2 separate regions of the Homo sapiens genome follow, and region 2 is linked to region 1. A link means that fine-mapping ties the variant in region 1 to the expression of a gene that starts in the linked region. Tissue or cell type: prefrontal cortex. Region 1 holds a variant in brackets; the other region holds the start of a gene. All regions are shown on one strand. Distances are from middle to middle.

The links. PIP is the estimated chance that this variant, and not a neighbour inherited with it, causes the effect.
Region 2: TENM3-AS1 starts here. The variant in region 1 is fine-mapped to the expression of TENM3-AS1 in prefrontal cortex (GTEx, PIP 0.97).

Annotation. Positions count from the first base shown.
Region 1 is chr4:182,116,908-182,128,103 of GRCh38, forward strand. It overlaps a transcript of TENM3 not described here. Among named protein-coding and RNA genes, the nearest start is that of TENM3-AS1, 22 kb to the right of the region's middle. The variant T/C (reference allele first, on the strand shown) is at 5,243.
Region 2 is chr4:182,140,055-182,151,250 of GRCh38, forward strand. It overlaps TENM3-AS1 (TENM3 antisense RNA 1), which reads right to left and starts at 4,461. Exons shown (of 5, transcript NR_125905.1): 1 at 4,285-4,461; 2 at 3,993-4,086; 3 at 3,649-3,790; 4 at 3,384-3,491; 5 at 1-1,430. It also overlaps a transcript of TENM3 not described here. RefSeq lists enhancers at 957-1,763, 4,718-5,706.

The DNA of each region.
Region 1 (11,196 bases):
CAGCAATAAATGAAAGTTCCTGTTGCTCTACATTCTCACCAGCATTTGGTACCATCATGTTTTGGATTTTGGCCATTCTAATAGTTGTGTAGTGGTATCTCATTGTTTTAACTTGCATTTCCCAAATTATATATAATGTTGAATATCTTTTCATATGCCTACTTGTCATTGTGTATCTTCCTTGGTGTAGTGTCTGACATCTTTGGCCCAATGCTTAATCAAGTTGTTAATTTTCTTATTGTTGAGTTTTAGGTATTCTTTGTATACTTTGGATAACAGTTCTTCATCAGCTGTGTCTTCTGCAAATATCTTCTAGTCTGTGGCTCGTCTTTTCATTCTCTTGACACTGTCTTTTGCAGAGCAAAAGATTTTAAGTTTAATAAATCCCAGCTTATCAATTCTTTCTTGATCATATTTATTGACAAAGGCACGGATGATGTGTTTAGTGTTGTATCTAATAAGTCATTGCCAAAGCCAAGGTCACTGAGATTTTCTCTTGTGTTATCTTCCAGTTTTATAGTTTTACACTTTATATATGGGTCTCTGACCCATTTTGAGTTAATTTTTGTGAACATTGTGAGGTGTGTGTCTAGACTTATTTTTTTGTATGTGGATGTCCAGTTGTTCCAGCATTATTGAAAAGAATATCTTTGCTCCACTGTATTGCTTTTGCTCCTTTGTTGAAGATCAGCAAGCTATAGTTATATTGATTTGTTTCTAGACTTTCTATTCTGTTCCATAGATATATTTGTCTATTCTTTCACCAACACCACACTTTCTTGATTATTGTGGCTTTCTAGTAAGTCTTGAAGTTGAATAGCATCAGTCCTCTGACTTTGCTCTTCTCCTTTAATATTCTGGATATTTTTTTCCATATAAACTTTGGAATCAGTTTGTCAACTCTAAGTTATGCACAAAAAAACTTACTAAGATTTAATTGCAGTTGAATTGAATCTGTAGATCAAGTTGGGAAGAACTGACATCTTGAAAATATTGATTCTTCTCATCCATGAGTAATCTCTCCATTTACATATTTCTTGTTTCATATCTTAAATCAGAGTTTTGTAGCTTTAAACCTAAGTACTTCATTTTTTACGTGCTAATGCATATGATGGTGCATTTTTATTTTCAAATTAATGTGATGTTAATTGCTGCTATACAGAAAAGTGATCAATTTTTGCATATTAAACTTGTTTCTTGTAAACTTGCTATAATTATAATAATTATAATTATGATGATTATCATTAATTACTTATTAATTCCAGGAGGTTTTTTTGTCAGTTCTTTCAGATCCTATGCAGACAATCATGTCATGCACGAACAGAGACAGTATTATTTCTTCATTCCCAATCCATATACATTTTATTTGCCTTTCTTGTCTTATTGAATTAGCTAGTACTTCAAGTACAATGATGAAAAGCAGTGGTAAGACAGGACAGCCTGGCTTTGTTCCTGATCTTAGTGGGAAAGCTTCAAGTTTCTCACTATGAAGTATAATGTTAGCTGTAGGGGTTTTTTTGTAGATTTTTAAATTTTATTTTTTATTTATTTTTTTAGAGATGGGGGTCTAGCTATGTTGGCCAAGTTGATCTTGAACTCCTGGCCCCAAGCATCCCACCCTTCTTGGCCTCCTAAAGTGCTAGGATTACAGGCATGAGCCTGTAACTGTGCCAGCTCCCCCCTCCACCTTTTTTTGTAGATTTTTTAAGAATTGAGAACATATCTCACTGTTCCTAGTTTACTGAGAGGTTTTCATTATGAATAGGTGTTAGATTTTATCAGATGTCTTTTCTGCATCTATGAAAATGGTCATGTAAATTTTCTTCTTTAGCTTGTCAATGTGATGGATTACATTAATTGATTGTCGAACCAGCCTTACATACCTGGGATAAACCCCACTTGGCCGTGGTATATAATACTTTTTATACATTGTTGGATTTGATTTGCTAATACTTTGTTGAAGATTTTTGTCTCTGTGCTCATGAGAGATTTGATCTGTAGGTTGTTGAAAGGCAGACATAATGTTCTGGGTACAAAAGAACTGCAAAAAAATAGGCCATTAGCGATGTGGTGGTCAGGTGTCAAGGGAGAGGAAGCATTCCGTAGTCCCATGACAGGGTCTCAGTCTTTCAGTAAGTCTGTGCCTTTGGACTGGAACTGTTGTCACCATTGCTTCTCAGCCCTCCCTCCCTTGGGTGGGAGAGAATGGCTGGAAGGGGCTAGAGATGAGTATTTCCCTCCCCCCAGGTAGATTAGGCTCTGACAAAATTCCAGCAAGTTAGGATCTGGTAAAAGTTTCTCCTGAGGGCGGAACTTGTTAAGAAAAACAAAATGCTCCGATGTATTTCGAAATGGCTCCTTTTCCTCTCTCCCTGCCGAAGCACGAAGAAATATTTCTCCTATATACACCAGGAAGAACTGGTAGAGCTCTTAAAACTCACAAAAGTGTGAAGGCCCCTCGACTGAGTCTCCGTGGAGTTTTTATCTCTCAGACTTGGCCACACGGAGCCTTCAGCAATTCATCAATTACGGTTCCGGTTTACCTCCCTGGCACTGGTTCCAGCAGAGGTTTCTGCAGGTGGGTTTCTGCTCCACGGATACAGAGAATTGTGATTCTATGTACCTGCCCATTTATCTCTCCAAATTTGGGGGCAGCAGCTTTCCCTGTGACCTCCCTTCTTTGAGGGACCTAAAGAAGTTGTTGATTTCCAGTTCATTCAGTGTTTTTTTCTTGTTCTTAGGACAGAGTGGAGACTTCTAAGCTCCTTAAATGGCAGATCAGAAACTATGGAAAAAAACACACAGTTTATTTCATTTTAGATAGGGTCTTGCTCTGTCATCCAGGCTGGAGTGCAGTGACATGACCAAGGCTCCCTGCAACCTCAAACTCCTGGGCTCAAGCTCCCACCTCAGATCCCCAGGTAACTGGGACTACAAGTACATACCACCGTGCCTGGCTAATTTTATAATTTTTTGTAGAAACATGGTCTCCATGTGTTGCCTAAGCTGGTCTCAAACTCCTAGACTCAAGTGATCCTCCTGCCTCAGCCTCTCAAAGTGCTGGGATTAGAGGTGTGAGCCACTGCACCTGTCCTCCCCATAGTTTTTAGATAAACATAATCTACAAATTGTGAGTCCACTGACAGTTTTTTCATTACCACACAAATACACACATGCGTGCGTGCGCGCACACACACACACACACACACACACACTCCTTTCTCTTCTTCACTTTTGGTTAGTCCCTTGAAGAGAGGTTCAGGCACTGAACCTTTCTATGTTTTGATGTTCTTAGACACACAATTCCTTACCATTGTGTTACAACTGCCTACAGTACTTAGTACAGTCACATGCTGTACAGGTTTGTAGCCTAGGAGCCATAGGCCCTACCATATAGCCCTGATGTATAGTAGGCTGTACTATCTAGGTTTGTGTAATTGCTCTCTGTGATGTTTACACAATGATGAAATTACCTAAGGAGGCATTTCTCAGAATGTATCTCTGCCAAGCGATGCACAACTACACATATGTACCTACATATATATGTGTGTTGTGTATATACACACGTGTGTGTATATACACATGTATTTGCTTGTATGTATACATATATGTAACAAATAGGTAAATTATCTAGAATGTTATAAAGTAATAAGAGCTATGAAAATATATTTGTGACAAAGCAGGGTATGTGGGATCAGTACTGGTGGTTGGAAGAAGGGTCATTTGCAACTTTAAAAAAGGTAGTCAAATGAAACTTCCTTGAGAAAAGGAAATTTGAATAAAGACTTCAAGGAAGTGCTAAAAAGAAATGAGGGAGTGCATCAAAACTGTTCTGAGCAAGTGAATAGCCAGTGTCCGGTACCAAGTATGCCTGATGTGTTCAAGGGACAGCAAGCAGACCAGGATTCCTGAGGTGTTATAAAAATGGAGGAAGGTTCTAGAAGTTGAGGTCAAAGGGGTAACAGAGGATCAGATCATGCAAGACCTAGTAAGATATTATAGGACCATGGCTTTCTCTCTGACTGACTTGTATACGCATTGTAGGATTTTGAGCAAAGGCATGCCATGTTCTGACTTCCATTTTGTTTTTATTTATTATTTATTTTTTTGAGATGCAGTCTCACTCTGTTGCCCAGTCTGGAGTGCAGTGGCATGATCTTGGCTCACTGCAACCTCCGCCCTCCGGGTTCAAGTGATTACCCTGGCTCAGCCTCCCGAGTAGCTGGGATTACAGGCGCCCACACGACACCCGGCTAACTTCTGTATTTTTAGTGGAGACGGGTTTTCACCATGTTGGCCAGGCTGGTCTCGAACTACTGACCTCAAGTGATCCGCCCAACTCGGCCTCCCAAAGTGCTGGGATTACAGATGTGAGCCACCCCGCCTGGCCTCTGACTCGCATTTTAAAAGGTGCACTCTGGCTTCTGGATTGAGAATATAGACAATAAGGAGTCAGGTGTAGATATAATGAGAGTAGTTGGGCTATTGCAATAACATAGGCAAAATAACGTTGGTGGCTAAGGATAATACCTATGGAAGTGGTAAGACTAGGTTAGACTCTGGATATGCTTTTAATGTAGAGCTAAAGACCACTTCAATAAAGACCACTGCCATAAAGCTAATATCACAATAACGTGAGTCACATGGTTTCTTTTGGTCTCCCAGTGCATATAAAAGTTATGTTTACACTATACTATTAAACATTTAATAGCATTATGTCTAAAAAACAATGTACATACCTTAAGTTTTAAATTTTATCATTAAAAAATTCTAAAGATCATTGGAGCCTTCAGCAAGCCATAATATTTTTGCTGATGGAGTATCTTGCGTCAGTGTTCATGGCTACTGATTAACCAGGGTGGTAGGTGCAGAAGGTTGGGGTGATTGTGGCAATTTATTAAAATAAGACAACAGTGAAGTTGCCCCATTGATTACGTCTTCCTTTCACAAGAGATTTCTCCATAGTGTGTGATGCTATTTGATAGCATTTTACCTACAGTAGAGCTTCTTTCAAAATTGGAGTCAATCCTCTCAAACCTTTCCACTGCTTTATCAACTAAGTGTATGGAATATTGTAAATCCTTTATTGTCATTTTGACAATGTTCACAACATCTTCACCAGGAGTAGTTTCCCTCTCAAGAAACCACTTTCTTTGCTCTTCCATAAGAAGCAACTCCTTATCTGTTCAAGTTTGATCATGAGATTGCAGAAATGCAGACTCATCTTCAGCCTCCACTTCTA[T/C]TTCTCTTTAATTTCTACTATGTCTGCAGCAACTTACTCCACTGAAGTCTTGAAATGCTCAAAGTCATCCATGAGGGTTGGAATCAACTTCTTTCAAACTCCTGTTAATGTTGACCTCCTCCCATGAATCTCAAATGTTCTTAATTGGATCTAGAATGGCAAACCTTTTCCAGAAGGTTTTCAACTGACTTTGTCCAGATCCATCAGAGAATAAAAATCTATGGCAGTGACAGTCTTGCAAAATGTATTTCTTAAATAATAAGACTTGAAAGTTGAAATTACTCCTTGACTGATGGACTGCAGAATGGATGTGGTATTAGCAGGTGTGAATATCTGCGCATCTCCATCAGAGCTCTTGGGTGACCAGGTATGTTATCAGTGAACAGTCATATTTTGAAAGGCATCATTTTTTTCTGAGCAGTAGGTCTCAACGGTGGTCTTAAAATTTCCAATAAACCATGGTGTAAACAGATGTGCTGTCATCCAGGTTTTATTCCTTTTACAGAACACAGGCAGAGTAAATTTAGCATAATTTTAAGGGCCTTAGGAATTTTGGAATGATAAATGAGCATTGGCTTCAACTTCAAGTAACTAGCTACATTAGCTAGTTAAAAGAGACTCAGCCTGTCCTCTGAAGCTTCAAAGCCAGGCACTGACTTGTCTCTAGCTATGAAAGTCTGAGGTGGCATCATCTTCCCATGCAAAGCTGTTTTCATCTACATTGAAAATCTGTTTTTTAGTGTAGTCTTCATCAATGACCTCAGCTAGATCTTGTGGATAACTTGTTGCAGCTTCTCCGTCAGCACTTGCTGTTTCACCTGGTACTTCTATGTCATGGAAGTGGCTTCTTTCCTTAAACCAACTTCTTGAACCAACCTCTGCTAGCTTCAGATTTTTCTTCTGCAATTTCCTCGTCTCTCTCAGCCTTCTTAGAATTGAAGAAATGTATGGCCTTGCTCGGGACTAGGCTTTGGCTTAAGGGAATTTCATGGCTGTTTTGTTGTTATTGTTGTTGTTGTTGTTTGTTTTTTGTTTGTTTTTTCCTATCCAGACCACTACAACATTCTCTGTATCAGCAGTGAAGCTGTTTCACTTTTTTATCATTCATGAGTTTTCACTGGAGTCGCACTTTATATTTCCTTTAAGAACTTTCCCTTTTTATTCTTAACTTGACTAACTTTGGCACAAGAGACTTAGCTTTTGACTTATTTTGCTTTGTACCCGCCTTCCTCACTAAGCTTAATCATTTCTAGCTTTTGATGTAAGTGAGAGATGTGCAACTCTTCCTTTCACTTGAACACTTAGAGACCATTGCAGTGTTAATAACTAGCCTAAAGACAATATTCTTGTCTCAGGGACTAGATGGGCCTGAGGAGAGGGAGAGAGATGGGGAAGCAGCCAATCAGTGGAGTAATCAGAACACACACAACATTTATTGATGAAGTGTGCAGTCTTATATAGGCATGGCTCATGGCACCCCAAAACAATTACAATAGTAACATCAAAGATCACAGGTCACCATAACAGATGTAATAATCATGAAAAATGTGAAATGTTGCTATAATTACCAAATGTGACACAGAGACACGAAGTGAGCACACGCTGTTGGAAAAATGGTACCATTAGACTTACTCGACTCAGGGTTACCACAAACCTTCAATTTGTAAAATATGTGATTTCTGCAAAGCACAATAAAACAAGTACAACTCTATTTCCTGATGAATTAGAGGAGAAGAGTGACAGCGTGGGGGAGTCAAATAAGACCACCAAGGGTTTTGTCTGGAATAACTTGAAGTGTCAGTGCTGCCATTGACTGAGATGGGAAAGACTGCAGAAGGAGTTAATTTTAGAGTTCAGGAGTTTTTATTTGAAACTACCCATTTATTTGTTTATTTATTTATTTACTTTTTAATTTATTTTGAGATGGAGTCTCACTCCGTTATCCAGGCTGGAGTGCAATGGCGTGATCTCGGTGCACTGCAACCTCTGCCTCCTGGGTTCAAGCAATTCTCCTATCTCAGCCTCCCGAGTAGCTGGGACTACAGGCACGTGCCACCATGCCCAGCTAATTTTTGTATTTTTAGTAGAGATGGGGTTTCACCATATTGGTCAGGCTGGTCTCAAACTCCTTACCTCAGGTGCCCCACCCACCTTGGCCTCCCAAAGTGCTGGGATTACAGGCGTGAGCCACAGCACCCTGCTGAAACTACCCGTTTACACAATCTAGTGGAAATGTCGAGTAGATAATTTCATATGTGAATCTGAAGTTAAGAAGGGAAAGAGAGATCTGAACTGGAAATGTAAGTATAGGAGATGTCAGCATATAACCTGCACTTAAAGCCTCGAGACTACAGTGTTGTTCACCAAGGGAGTGAGTCTAGAAAGATTAAGAAAGAACAAAGGCTGAGCCCTGGGGCAACATTAAAACTGTGGGAATAAGAATCAGTGAAGGAGGCTGAAAAGGCGTGGCCAGTATAGTAGAACAATCAGGAGAGAACGGTGTCCAGAAAGCCAAATGAAGGAAAGTGTGCAGGCGGAGAAAGTGAGAAGCTGTGACCTGATGGGTTCAAGTACGATAAGTCCCTTCCCACTTTTTTGCAGTTTCACTTCCTGATGTTTGAGTTCAACTGCAGTCAACTACAGTCTGAATATATTACATAGAAAGTTCCAGAAATAAACAGTTCATGAGTTTTAAATTGCACGCTGGTCTGAGGGGAGGGATGAAATCTCACTGTCCAGCTGGGACGGTGAATCTTCCCATTGCCCAGCGCATCCACGCTGTGTGTGCTACTCGCCCCTGCTGGGATGGTGAATCTTCCCATTGCCCAGCGCATCCACGCTGTGTGTGCTACTCGCCCCTGCTGGGACGGTGAATCTTCCCATTGCCCAGCGCATCCACGCTGTGTGTGCTACTCGCCCCTGCTGGGACGGTGAATCTTCCCATTGCCCAGCGCATCCACGCTGTGTGTGCTACTCGCCCCTGCTGGGATGGTGAATCTTCCCATTGCCCAGCGCATCCACGCTGTGTGTGCTACTCGCCCCTGCTGGGATGGTGAATCTTCCCATTGCCCAGCGCATCCACGCTGTGTGTGCTACTCGCCCCTTCCATCTCGATGATCACATCAACTGTTGTGGTATCACAGTGCTGGTGTTCAAGTCACCCTTATTTTACTTAATGATGGCCCCCAGGTGTGCAAGTAGTAAGGCTAGCAATGCAGATCTGCCAAAGAGAAACCACAAAGTGCTTCCTTTAACACCGGATCCATAGGATTTGGTAATAATCCCAGTTTCAGGCATCTACTGGGGTCTTAAAACTTATTCCCTGTGGATAAGGGGAAATGCCACCGTAAAATGAAGGCTTAAAATTGACGTTGGGATTTAGCAGCATGGAGATCTTGGGCCATCTTGACAAAAGTGTTTTCTGTGGAATGGTGATGATAAAACTTTCATTGGATTTAAAGGAGATGAGAGTAGAACATTTAGAAACATCCAGCATAGGCAAGCCCTTTAAGGAGTTTTCCTAAAAAACAGTGAATAAAATAAAGAAAGTAAAATAAAATAAAACAAAAAAGAGGGTGTAGCTGATAGGGAAATCAAGGAAAAGCCCCCTTTCCTTGCCTTTTTTTTTTTTTTTAAAGATAGAAGTAATAACTACATGCTTGGGATCATGGGAATGAGTCCATAGGGGCCAAAAATAAATGATAATATAGAGCATAAAATTGCTGGTAGCAAAATATGACAATGCAATTTGGGGGATTTGAAAGCGTATGTCTAAAATACATATTTAAATTAACAAGTAACAAAGTAATGTCTACTCTAATTCACCCTTTTCCTTTGCATCCCATTCAAAATTCTGACCCACTTAAAAATGATACCAGATAAGTATTTGTTTCTTATCTGATTAAAACAATTAGTACTAAAATATGTATCAGGCTGAACATCCCACCTAAAGTCCATATTATTTGTACAGATTTGCAATAAAATGAATCTCTAATTGGAAGATATTTTCGAGTGGCATTTTCTGACCACTCGAGACATGACTCATTCCATATTTAGTTTTTCAGAGAGTAAGTAGGTTGAATCAGCATTATTATCCACAGTCAAAATGCCCCAAAGTCAATCGTAGATCCCAGAGATGTACAAAAAAACTTTAATGTGAAAACAAGGTCACACTTCTCCACCACACCTAGGGCTAAACCCATTTCCACCTGTAAGTGATGCAGAGCACAGTCATCAGAGTCTATTTCCACAAAACAATAGTCTCTTTGTAACACCGAGGAGTCAGGCTGAAAACAGAAGTTCGGTGCTTTAGAATGAAGAATGCTCTGGCTTGGGCACAGATTTAGACAGTTGGATTCAGATGCTGCTTACTGAAGAACTCTCTTTTGGTGAAGCAAAACATCTTCAATCCAGAAGTATGTTTAGCCTCTAACGTGATCTTCTTGCTGTGCCCATGAAAACCTACTGGACTCTGAGCCAGACTTGCCTGATCCTGCCCTATATGCACATGTATAAAATGGTGGTCCTTTTCTCCTTCTGTCTGAATCACATTGCTGTACTATGCATTGATTCACCCTACCCACGAAAAGAGTTGAAGTGAAAAAAGAACCCCAAGCAAAACTTTGTCTGGCTGACTATGCCTATGGTCTGTGAGTCACTAAAAATTTTAACTATGGACTTGACCCTACTGAGCCCAGGCAAGCCCAAGAACTCCCCATCCCCACCCCATCCTCAACACAGAGACTTTCCTGAGGGACTGGAGCTAGCATAGTACATCACATTGCATAGCCACAAATCACCAATCTACCTTTGCAAAGTGTGGCCTTCTTAAGGCGTAGCATGCATATGTATAAATGCATATGTGGTATTTAACACAGGTTAATGAGATCAACCCCAAGTGAGCTTTCTGTAGGACATCATATACTGCAATTATGATAAAGTTATGTTAAAATATAGGGACTTTCCAGGTAAATGATTAAATAAAAATGATTTTTAAAGTATTTATCCACATGAGCTGCCTTCTACATATTTCTTAAGAATGTATGTGCAAAGGGTTAATATTATATGTAAGGCAGACATCTAATGGATAAATTTAAAAGCAGCTAAAAACATAGCATCCTGTGTATAACTTTCATAATTGTACGTTCCTCCAGAGATAATGGATATGATTATCAGCAGCGCCTGTCCTAGGTAACTTGGCAAGGTTACGATTGTTTGTTACAGCTTTGGTTATATTAACATACACATTAATATTTATAAATATTTGATGTCATGTTAATTTTTCATATAAGATGATTTATGTAATGTTGCTGTGCCCTGTTAGAGGGCATTTGCAATATGCTTCAAAAGGGAACTGAACTGATGCATGTTCTTTAAGGGAACTTGCCTGTATATCACTGTTCTCATGATGCATTATTCTGAACAATAGTATTTCAAAATAAATTATGTGAATTGTGGATTTACTCCATTAACATTTTAAATAAAACATAAAGGAAAAGATCATGCTGAAACTATTTGCTACATTTTTAAAAGGAGCTCTGTTCTCTTGGAGCAGAACAAAGTTTACTGAAAGACTCTTTTTCAAAAATGGAGTTATCAAGCAAGCAATGGTTTTGCAATTTTGTTTTCAATGTATAGTCTATATAGCATGCAAACTAGCATATTCAGAAAAGTATATAAACTTGAGATAAAAAAGTCATAATATTCTTGTTTTCATTTGTCAATTTTCTTTTGCTAAAGTATATTTTACTGTGATGATCAAATTTAGACATTAAGAGAATTAAATATAAATTCAGCAGGATGTGTATAATAAATAAATCAAAAAGTTATTAAATGAATATTTGCTTTAGGTGAAAAAAAATTTCTTTATAGGAAGTTTAATAGGTTTGTTTAGTATTATAGTACTACTTTATAATATAGTTCATTGGTCCACATTACCAAATAATATTATTAAT
Region 2 (11,196 bases), 23 kb after region 1:
TTCCCTCAATCTAACAGCCAAGGGATAAGTTATTTTTTTGCCAGTGGGGGGAAAACCCCACCCAATAATAACTTTGTCTACTTGAGAGACTTCCATGTAAAATTTAAGTTTTAGTGTTGTTCACTGTTGCAGATTAATTGCTTGCTACCTGTGAAGGCACTTGTGTAAGGGAAACACCTCAGGTGCCTAGAATTTGGGTTTTGCTCAGTGGCTACCAGCCTTTAGCCTCTGTTCTAAAGTGGCCCATCACCTATTTGCTGTTCTCAGTTGAGACATAAGCTCCTTTTGGGCATATGTGGGTTATTGGCTTTCCTGAGCCTGAGGGGTGAGCTGGAAGGTCTCGGTACCTGAGATTTGGCTCCCCTGGTCATTTCTACCCCGTTCCTCATCGTTCCTAGGGTCTCTTGAGTGGGAGAGGTTGCAGCCGGGGCAGCAACTGGGTTTGAACCCAGCAGACAGGCCGCTCATGCCTCCGTTTGCTAAAGCAGATGTAATAAAGTCCAAACAATAGGTAAACTCCAGTGATGTCCACAAGTGTCCTTGGAGAGCCTAATACCTGCCTGACCCGGCGGTCCCCTTCTGCACGCCTGAAAGCCTCGCGTGTTAAAGGAGGAAGTGGCTGCGGAGACCCTCGAGTCTGCACGGGCAAGAGGCACAAACAGCTGCTACCCGGCCCCTTCAGTTCCAAGCTGGCTCTTTAGGACAGGAGGAGAAAACGGACAGACCCCAAAGGGGAGAAAGGGAAGGCGCATGTGATGCTGACTAAAATGGACAGGTGTCACCTTCAGGTGGGCAGCGACACTCGGCTGAGACTTGACCCGCGGGGAGGCGGTGGAGCAGCAGGGCAGGGTGCTGTTGGCCTTGCCTCAGTAGTGGGGCAAGAACCTGTCTCCTCTTCCCCAAAATGAATCCAGAGGTTCGGCCCATTATATCCCTCCCCCCCGCCCCCCAGCCCTTTGAGAGGCTTCCAAAGGCCCCAGGCATGCATTCCTAGGACTAGGGCTAGGCGAGGGTTGCTGGGCCACATTTTCCTTTTGGAGAGCTGCGCATCTGTGTGGCAAGAGGGGCCCACGGGAGGGCGATGCCGCCAGCTCGGTCCCATTATCCCGAGCACGACCGGCTGCGTTCACACCGCAAAGTCACCAGCCGCGCCGGGCAGAGTTTGCTGAGAGCGGCCAGAGGCTTGCAAAACAGACAGCGATGTCTTGCATTTCTTCTCCCGCTCCAGTTTTTATTGCTGCGGAGGGCACGACGTGAGCTGCCCGCCATCCCCGCCCTCTCTTGACAACAGCTCAGTGAGGTAAAAAGCATGATGGTCACGTAGCGAGCTGCCTCTCTGCTTTCCAGGGATTCATCCGAAGGAGGAAGCGTGTGGTAGTTTGGCACTGCACAACATCAGCTTTTCCTAACGGCCTCAAATGATGGAACTTCTTTGTGTGAGAGACAGAGAGAGACCCAAATTTAACACACGTAAGCTGCCTGGATTACAGGCGCAGGCAGACGTAGAGGAGGACCCCTGCGCGCTTTGTCCACCAGCGACGCCTGGCATAGAGTGCGCAGGGCCGTATTAATGAGTTCTAGAGTATTTTTTTCTATTTTGCAACCATAGTGTGAACGTTCAGCATTGCATACTGAAAAACTTTGAATCTCATGTAAGAAGGAACTGGGCTAGAGACAGGAGCCAAGATTTATTACCATTTCTAAGTTTTATGAGTTCTATTGTTTTCCTACCTTTATTACCAGCGTTAGCTGTAATGAGGATTCTAGAAAAAAGAGCTGGAAAAAAGAAGCATCCCCTAACTCACACAATGTAGCACTTCAGTTCTGGCCTCTTTAGGATTGGGGCAGTGTCTCATCTCTTTATTGTGTATTCGTAGACAGTAAGAGGGAGTCTCACTTACTACTTGGAAAAGTTTTAAAGACCTAATACTTTTGTGTGTGTGTGGGAACTAGGCCACAAAAGTGCTTTATGAAAGAGTTTCCTTACGATCATGTCCGGATTCAAATTTCAAGTAGTTTGCATGATCTTCATGTAATATCTGGGACACACCTTCATAATTGACAAGCCTTTTTTTTATATAATAATAAGAATGGCTAAATGAGTGAGGGATATCATTCATCCGCCCCCATGACCTTATCTTTTTCAAGTGTGAAATTCAGTGGCAGAAGGAGATGGATCTATCCCAGGGCGACTCTAGATTCTTCCCGCAAAGATATGCGTGCTGCTTTCCGTCACTAGCGCCCCGAGAGCCGGGTCGGGTTCGCTTACTACCAAGACTTCTCTACTTAACGCGCTGCGCTCGGGCACTTAGCAACTTCGGGAACACGGGCTGTGGGTCTGGGCACACCACCTCGAGTTTAGGGATTCTCCTCACTTCTAGCCCAAACTTTGGATAAACTAACATAAAGGTTCAGGCTTTCCTAGGAGGCGTCGTCCTTGTTCTCCCAGTGCTCGATCTGTTTCTGGTTCTGCACGGTAGTTAAAAATGCAAGTGGATTTCCTAACGGCCGAGTACAGGTACAGGTGGAGGTCGGCGGAATCCTCTGCTCTGAAGCTGAAAGTGGAGGGTGGCGCGAGGCGGCTGGCGCGACGAGGCTGAGAGCGCACCAGTCTCCGCCACGCTTCCAAGGACAGGTTGGCGACGGCCGGGGCAGGCCTGGTCGCGGGCTCCTAGCCCTCCACGGGCAGACTGCTGGTCCCAGGAGAGGGCGGGGAGATGCTCGGGCGCGCACCAGGGAGCCGCACTCACTCGGCAGCCCCAAGCACGCACGCCCCACCTCTGCCGCCGCCCCGTCCCGGACCCGAAAGGAGCCTGAAGGATCCCGCCGACCACCCAGCCAGAGAGCGGTTCGGCTCAGGTCGCCCATTCGGAGCTACAAAACTCTGGAACCTCCAGCAGTTTCGGAAGCTCCGGGGGAGGGCTTTCCTGCAGACAGGGGGCGGGAGCTAGGGAGCCGGGAGCCAGCGCTGCGGTGGGAACTTCAGTGAGTAGAAAGTGGCCAGTGTCTTGGGAGGAGCAGCAAACTTTTTTTTTCCCTCCCACAGCAAACAAAATCGAGGCAGGGACAGTGTCCGGCCGCTAATCTGAGGGGAGAATGGAGAGGAAAGAAGAGTAGTAAAAGTGGGGAGTGGAGCCTTCGGAGGACTCCCGGGTCCGCCCCTGGCCAGGTGATGCGGGGCGGAGGCCTAGGTGCTTGAACCTGGGGGGCAGACAATTGTTCTGCTGCAGTGCCCACCAGGGGCTGGTAAGGAAGTCTGAGTGTTTACTGCCTCCCTTCCCTGTCCAAAGGTCATTTGCGCTTTTCGGTCTCGGACGAAAGAACACTGTGGAAAGGAAGGCGCGGGTCATTTTCAGAGGCTCTGCAAAGGACGGGCCGCCTACCGGGGGTGGAAATCCTTAATTACACCCTTCTGCCTCGGAATCCGTCTTCCCGGCAGTGTCTTGCACTGCCACCTCCTCGGGTGACTCAGCTGACCTGAAATGCCCACCCTACGGAAGATCAAGAAAAGTAGTTTTCTAAGAAGGTTAGAGGTTTGATTACACAGAGAAGTGTTTCCACTTAAGTCCAAAGCAATTACCCGCCCCCTCCCCCAGGGCCGCCTCCCCGCCACCCGCAGCAGAAAAGGACAGACCCCCACGCACGTACCCCCATTTTGTTGGTGCGTGTGAATTTCAAATGGCGCAGTAAGTTCATTAGTGTTTTCAATCGGCGGCGGGCAGACCCCTCATCAGAGCCGAAAGCCGGCAAGAGCCATTCATCAGCGTGAAGTGTTATTCACGGATGACCCCTAAATCACGGCGAGAGTAGTAAAGGCACTGATTGGTCACAGCATGGGAGCCTCGGTGCTTTCCCGAACCCGACGCGGCCGGGAGGAGGGAAGGAGGGAGGGGCGGCGAACGTGGTTCAGTCCGGCAAATCCCATTTGACAGAAAAAGGCAGTAAACGGGGAATCTCTTTTTTTGAATAAAGAAGAAGAAGAAATAAAGTACCTGTCATCTTGACAAGTGGCGGAGCGGAGGAGTCAAGGATTATAAATGATCACAGCCAGGTCCAGCTCGCCCCGTGATTGGGCTCTCCCGCGATCTGCACCGGGGGAAGCGCATGGTAGGCTCCTCTCCTCTCCTCCTCTCCCTCGCACACTCCCGCACACACACACACACACACACACACGGACACGTGTACGCGCCCGGGCTCGGGCACACTCGGCCCGGCGCGTCCCCCGCCGCACAATTACGGTCCTGGATGCCGCTCCCTGGCCGGGCGTCCCGCGGGCCTCCTCACCTGGCCCTTCTCGCCTTCCTCCTCCCTCGCCTCCCCGGTCCTCCCGCTCGCGGGCTGAACCCCGAAAACTCCGGCCCGGCCTGGTCCGCCGCCTTGGAGGAGGCTGGAGGGGCCGGCGGGCGGGGAGAGGGGGAGCGCGGGGGAGAGAAAGAAAGTGAACTCATTGGCGCGCGGGCGCCCTCCCCTCCCGCGTCCCCGGGCCGCGCGGCCGGGGGCGGGCAGGGAAGGAAGTTGTAACACTCGCGCCCCCTCCCCGCCCCCGCCCCGCCGGCGCCCGCTCCCCGCTCCCTCGGCGGGGCCCCCCTCCCCCGCGCCCGGCTCCTTTGAATTTGGCCCGGCGCGGTGTGCGCGCGGCTCGGGCGGACGCGGCGGCTGCTGCCGGGGAGCGAGCCGGCGGCGCGGGCGAGCCGAGCGCGGTAAGTGCGGCGCCGCCGCCGGCGCGCCCTCCTTCCTTTATGGGGTCCTAGTGCCGGGCCGCGGCGCCGGGAGCTGGCGGGCGCGAGCTGGGACGGCGCGTGGCCCCGGGAGGCGGCGGACGCGGGGACATCTTCTCAGCGCGCGGATTCTCTCCACGGTCCGGCCTCCCCGTCCCCGCCCCGCCCTCGCGCCAGCCACCTCCGGCCGCCGGCTCAGGTGGGAACTTCGCCGGCGCCTCTCGCCCGGGGAGCCAGGCGCCGCGCCCCCGTACTGGGGAGCCCCGGGGTCCCTGAGGAAGGCAGTCCGGAGGCTGGGCGCCCAGTGGGGGCGGGGAGGGGAGCCCGCCAGGTCCTCTTCGGCCCCCGATGTGTGGCGAGGCCCCGCGTCTTCTGCGGGGGCGTCTTAACAGGATCCTGGGGGGCTTCCAGCGAGCGGAAAGCCCCGGGATGTCACCGCTTTCCGGGGCAGGCAGGGGACAGAAGGCTTCTGCAGCGATCAGGGAGCCAAGTTGAAAAGGAGTGAAGGAGGGAGAGTGCGGGGCGAGGGGTAGCGTGGGGAGTGGTGGATCACGGCTGAAACTTGATCGGGAAACTCTGGATGGGGTTGGAAACACACACAAAATATCCTGAGCTGGGCGTTTCAAAAATTACGAATTTATGAGCCTGCAACTGAGATTCTAAGTCCCTCTCGTGTTTTACAACCGATTACAAAGAGCTTCACGTATTTTAGGTTGAGGCGGGTTGTGTCTGATTGATCTTTGCTGAGCATCTTACTATGCAGCTTGGATTCCATTCTTACTGCCTCACCTTTAAGGTAGCTGGAGTGGTAACTTGTTAATTTTTATTGTAGAGAGAGGGTAACAAGTACTTGTACCGTGTAATACATCACACACGTGTGTTTCCCCAAGTCACTGTAATTTGGAGGTAGAGAAAAGTTTCCAGGTACGTGTGAGGAGGTGCAATGGAAATGAAAGGCTGAGAGCTGTCCTAGACTTTTTACAGGGCCCCAGACGGCTGGGATGCCCGAGAACAGGACTGTCTCTTCATCATGCTCTATTTCTTATCTTCTGACAATGTATTTTGTCAAACATTGGTAGACTCTGGCAGAATCCACTGGGTGGTCTTTTCACTAGAAATAGACATATGTTGAGGCATTACCTTTCCCTTCTCTTGTCAAAAGAAAAAAGGTGGATATGGCATCTCTGGAAAGCTTGGAAGAGTATCCCAAAAGATGGTATTGTAACTGAACAGAACTTGGTGATTTGATCCCTTAGTGAATTTCTTTAAAATAATGACGCATATCCCTTTTTCCCCACTGCCTACTTGGAGAAGTATTTGTAGTCTTTATGTATTAATATATTGAGAACAGACTGACTTTAGAATTAAGAGCAACTGTGTAATAATAATTATCTATTTTAATATTTCAATTAAAACAAGATTTTATAAATTCAACAATCTTGCTTTGTGCATTCCTTAATACACTTTTAATTATCTAAAACTTCGAGCATGTATATCTTAATATATAAAATTCTTGTATGAGCCCTGAAAGTTTGGATTTGTAATTCTAAATGCAGAGTAAATATTTAATTCTTGATCTAAGAGTGAGAGGTTAGTTCAGTAATAAGACTTGCTAATCCCACTTTAAAATGTCATGGCATTCACAAATTATTCCTAAATTCTTCAAAGATAGGAGTTTATAATGAGTTTAGTTATTCTATTGTGTATTTCAGGATTGTCTGTATCTCTTCCTGTTGCATTTCCCTTAACAATCTTGTTCTTTTTTTCTTACACGAATTTTATTATTCCTCTTAATCAAAGATTTTTTTCTAATAGTAAACAAATATATCTTATGTTAAATAACTTAGAAAAGAATAGTTAGAAAAAGTAGTTCAAATCAAACACACATTTTACATGCACTGCACAGTTTTTATAAAAAATGTAGTTGTACTAATCACCATGCTAACGTTTATATATTTGGAAAACTCTGTGAACCCCCTGTGCCAATAGCTTTATGTTAGCAACCTATGCACCCTAATGAGGATTACTTGATTATTGGGAATAAAGCAGATAGATTTATGGAATTGTGACTAGTTATTCCTCCAAACGGGATTATTTTGCATGGCTGTGTTTATTTTCTAGAAAGATGTTTTAGGTAAATTATTGAGGCTTTTCTTACTATGATTCTGTAGGCGTGTCATCAGTCTTTTGGTTAGAAAAGGGAACCTGCCTTATTAGGGTGAAGACAAAGAAAGATAAGGATGCTTATCTTTGAATAGAAAAAAGCTCCTAAAGAGAGTGAAAACTTTTAAACTTATTCAGAAAGGAAACCTAGCTAAACAATAATGATCCAGTTAGTAAGTTCAAGCTACTCTTTCTTAGCTTTGCTTCTGGGAGCCAAGAGTAATTATTCTGTTTGTAAAGAGTCAAGCAAAGAAGATAGCAGGAAGAAGCGCGTGGCTATCGTTGTGAGTAGAGTGACCTGTCAGAAATACTGAATCACCGTTAGGCTCGGTGTACAAAAAATGATGTCTTTGCAATAGCTGTTAATGTATGTTTGGAGATGCTGAAGTTTATCCTACCTATAGGGATACTAGGGAATAAGTTCAGAGCATGGTCATTGTCTGATATGAAAGCCCAACAAAGCCAAGTTTATTAGTTTATTAATATTGGTTATTTAAATAAATGCATGTGCCTCCTTTTTATTAAACTTTATTTTACCCTGTAAAAATTTGATTTCTGGATGGTGGTTGAATATCATCCAAGTTTTATATTTATTTGAATCAGTGTGTTCAGCAGCTGTGATGAATTGTCTGCCCTTTTCTGGAAGCTGTGCAACCTGTTAAGCATGTTGAATTACACATTGCTCATCTACCCTGTGTTTCGTTTGATAGTCAGATATCCGTTTGGACTTCGAGGGCATACTTTTTTTTACTTAGGTTGAGAATATGAGCAAAGAATATAATAGTTTGCCACCAAACGTTTACCGTGGTCCATAACCAATTACATATTCCTTTAAATTTCTAGTTGAAGTTAGTGTTGTGTTCATAGTTGCCTTGTAAAGTGGAATGATAGCCCGTAGGAAAATTGAACACATGCATTCGGAGTAAAGTCTGTTGAAAAGATAACACAATATTACGTTATTTAAAAGTTTCGACAACTAAGTTTTAAAAATTATTTTACGTAAGCTTCTTTTAGAATACATTTAAAACTTATTTTTGGAAACATCAGCTGGTTTAACAGACCTGATGGAAATTTTGTGCTTCAAAATAAAATAAAATAAAATAAACCTTAGTCTGAAAACTAATTGTTGTGTCTTATAAAACCTGATTTATTTTATACTTTTTTATACCAAGCATGACCATTATGAAGCTCTCCTTCTAATTGAGATTAATGTTTCTGAGCAAAGAAGTGGTTTGGAGGGCTGCGTTCATTTTGAGTGCTGTTGTAATCAATTTTAGATACAGCATTCCACAATGGATCAGTTTGCATCCAAACCTGCCTTATTATGTAGAATTAACTTGTTGGTGATTGATAGTGATACTTCTCCATCTTGAAAAGTCATTTGTTTCCAAACGAGTGTGATGGCTTGTATGAGTTTCAAAAGATTGCTTCTCATAATTAAAACATCCTATTGGGGACCTAATTTGAACTTTTTCTAAGAATTATATAAAACATGAGGAAGCAATTCATTAACATATATTCAACTCAAATAGCCTATTTTCCCAAAATGCAATATGCCTCAAGGCATATTTTCTTGCCCATCAAAGGATTTTATGGCCTTTTGAGTCATTAATAGTAACTGTAATCCATCTAGGTTATTTCCTTTTTTGTTTGTATTAACATTCTAGTTCAGTTTTTCAGAGATTTCTTAGAATTTTGGATGGACCTCTTGTGCATGTGTTATAACTTTATTTCATAAGATGGTGTAATCCTGACAATGAAAGATAATGCATGTGGAGGTAATTCCTTAATGGAAATGTGAAGAGATGGTGAACGTTATCATCCCCACTGTGATATTTGCATTTGTTTCTTATCTGTACCTGGTCATCTTTGGTTTTATCAGCTTTTAAGTCTCTTCTGAAAGACCACTTTAAGATTTTCTTGGGCTTTGGTTCATATTGCATTGTGATACATGTTGTCCCAATCAAATAAAAGATTAGGAGCACAGAATATAAGATTAATATAGATTAGCATTCTAATATATCCACAGTATATCCATATATATCAATATATATCCATATATATCAACGTATATCCGTAGTATATATGATTTCTAAAGAAAGATGTAACTGCTTTCTAGTGCGTGTAAACTTCCCACAATGGCATTACTCTTTACTTTCAGGAAGGAAAAAAACTTGATAAGAACTATGTATCTTTATTTTATTCTCTGTAATGATAGATTCTTGGCATCGGATTGGTGTTTTTCCAGCTTAAGACATCCATTTAAAATAGTTTTAAATGCTAAAATAATGCAGTTAAATTACCATTTTCAAAATGTTATTTTACACAAGTGCTAGAGTATAAACTATCAAAATGCAGAAACATGCCCTGAGATACACAGATGTTTCGTACACTGAAACTACAATAGGATTCATTCTTTTGAAGGAATTGCAATAAAATTTTCTGTAGTTTTGGTTAAATAACCCAGGTGATTGCCTAGCTAGAACAGCTACATGGAATTTACTAAAAATAGTGATCTACTCAAACCCATGTCTTTCTATTTTAAATTAGTCACTGCAAATTAATGTCAGTATCATAGAATGAACTCATAAGTCATATGAGTGGATGACTGAAACCATATCATGTAATAATAATAATAATAATGAGATTTTACTTCCCTGTTGATAACTTTCTTGGAATCTTGGAAGAGCTAGGATCGGGTAGCACTGACTTTTCAAACAAGTTTGTGATAGGTGGCAGTCTTAACCGAGTTCCTTGACTTCCTTCAGAAAATAGGTAATTCTTATATGTTTAGGAGCATGTGTGGAGTGAAATGTAGCATAACACTAAACTATGCTTATATTCTTTTTTGTAAGTTTAGGAGTCAATCATTACTTATGGAGATGTGGCATTTATTACTATTATTACTTACTATTTGACCCACATTCATAGTTCTGTAGTTTGTACTAGAGCATGCAAAAACACAGTGATACCTTCTGAAAATACCTTGGGGAAGACATAGTGCCTGTATTCACACTTGCATTTAATGATATAAAATTGTATCATTTATATAATTATATAAAAGTCATGGGATACAAAAATTGCGTTTGTTGATAGTATATTCTCAAATATTGTGGAGTAGTTTTTACTTCTGTTAGAGTAGTTGGGGAGAGGTGGGGATAATGTGATTTGGTTGCCCTGGGATGGGATCATATTAATAATAACCAGCTATTTTATAACTGGGTCTACTTGGTGTCTGCCTCAAAACCAAAAAAAGATAAGGGAAGGAGGAAGGGAGGAAGAAAGGAAAAGAGGAAGGGAGGGGAGTAAGAGAAAGAGAGAGAAAGAGGAGAAAATAGGAAATTGAATATCTTTTATAATGAGCGATGGCCCTTTGAGCATTTTCTGTATGTAGCAGGGTGTGTGACAGGAAAAGCAGACTAAAGGGAAAATTTTGTCATTTATTTTAATTGGGTAAGTACAGAAGAAAATTAACTTGTAAATTTTTTCACTTTTAAATATATGTATTTTCAATCCCTGCAGGAGAACCAGAGTATCAGTTTTTAAATTTAATCCAAGACATTCCAAATATTGTATACAGTTGCTTATACTGATGGAAAAAAGAAAATGTACTAAGAGCTCTATTTTATAGGCATGCTTGCTTTGTTTATAAGACTGAAAATCAAGTTATAGTTTTCTATGTAGAGACTTAAAAAAACCCACACGACTCTGATTATTTAAAAAGACCATTTAGGAGGTAACTTATAAAGGCCACTTACCTTTAAAGATACAGCTCTTAATATATTTTAGTCATTCTTTCCTTTATTTAATTACTAGTAATATTTGTTAGAATTCTTATGCTAATACCTCTTCAGGTTGCCATTACTTAGAAAGGATTAACAGCTTGGTAGTGACTGTCTTCCTTCAGTCCGATTCCGTAGCACCTCTGAATGCAGTGGCTGTCTATGAAGATAGCAGCACACTCTGAATAAGAGGGTGACGTGGATTTGTGGTTCTCTGTTCCCTCCCCCAAACAGAAAAGCTACTTTTTTATTAGAATGAATTATTTCCTCTTGAGTTAAATTATGCTCAACTAATATTGTGACTAGAATTGTTGACCCCCCTCTCTGCATAAGGAGGTGTCTTTTTTGACAATAGGGGCGTTTCCAAAGAAGAGGTCCTCACTCAAGAGCGTCTCCAGCATCCTCTTGTGTCCAGCATGTGGCTTCTATACTGGGATGGTATCTTAGGAGAGTTTATGTTCTTGGACTACATACTAGAAGGTACGTTATGCAGACAGTGAAAAGACAGGATTGAATTATTAGAATATACTTTA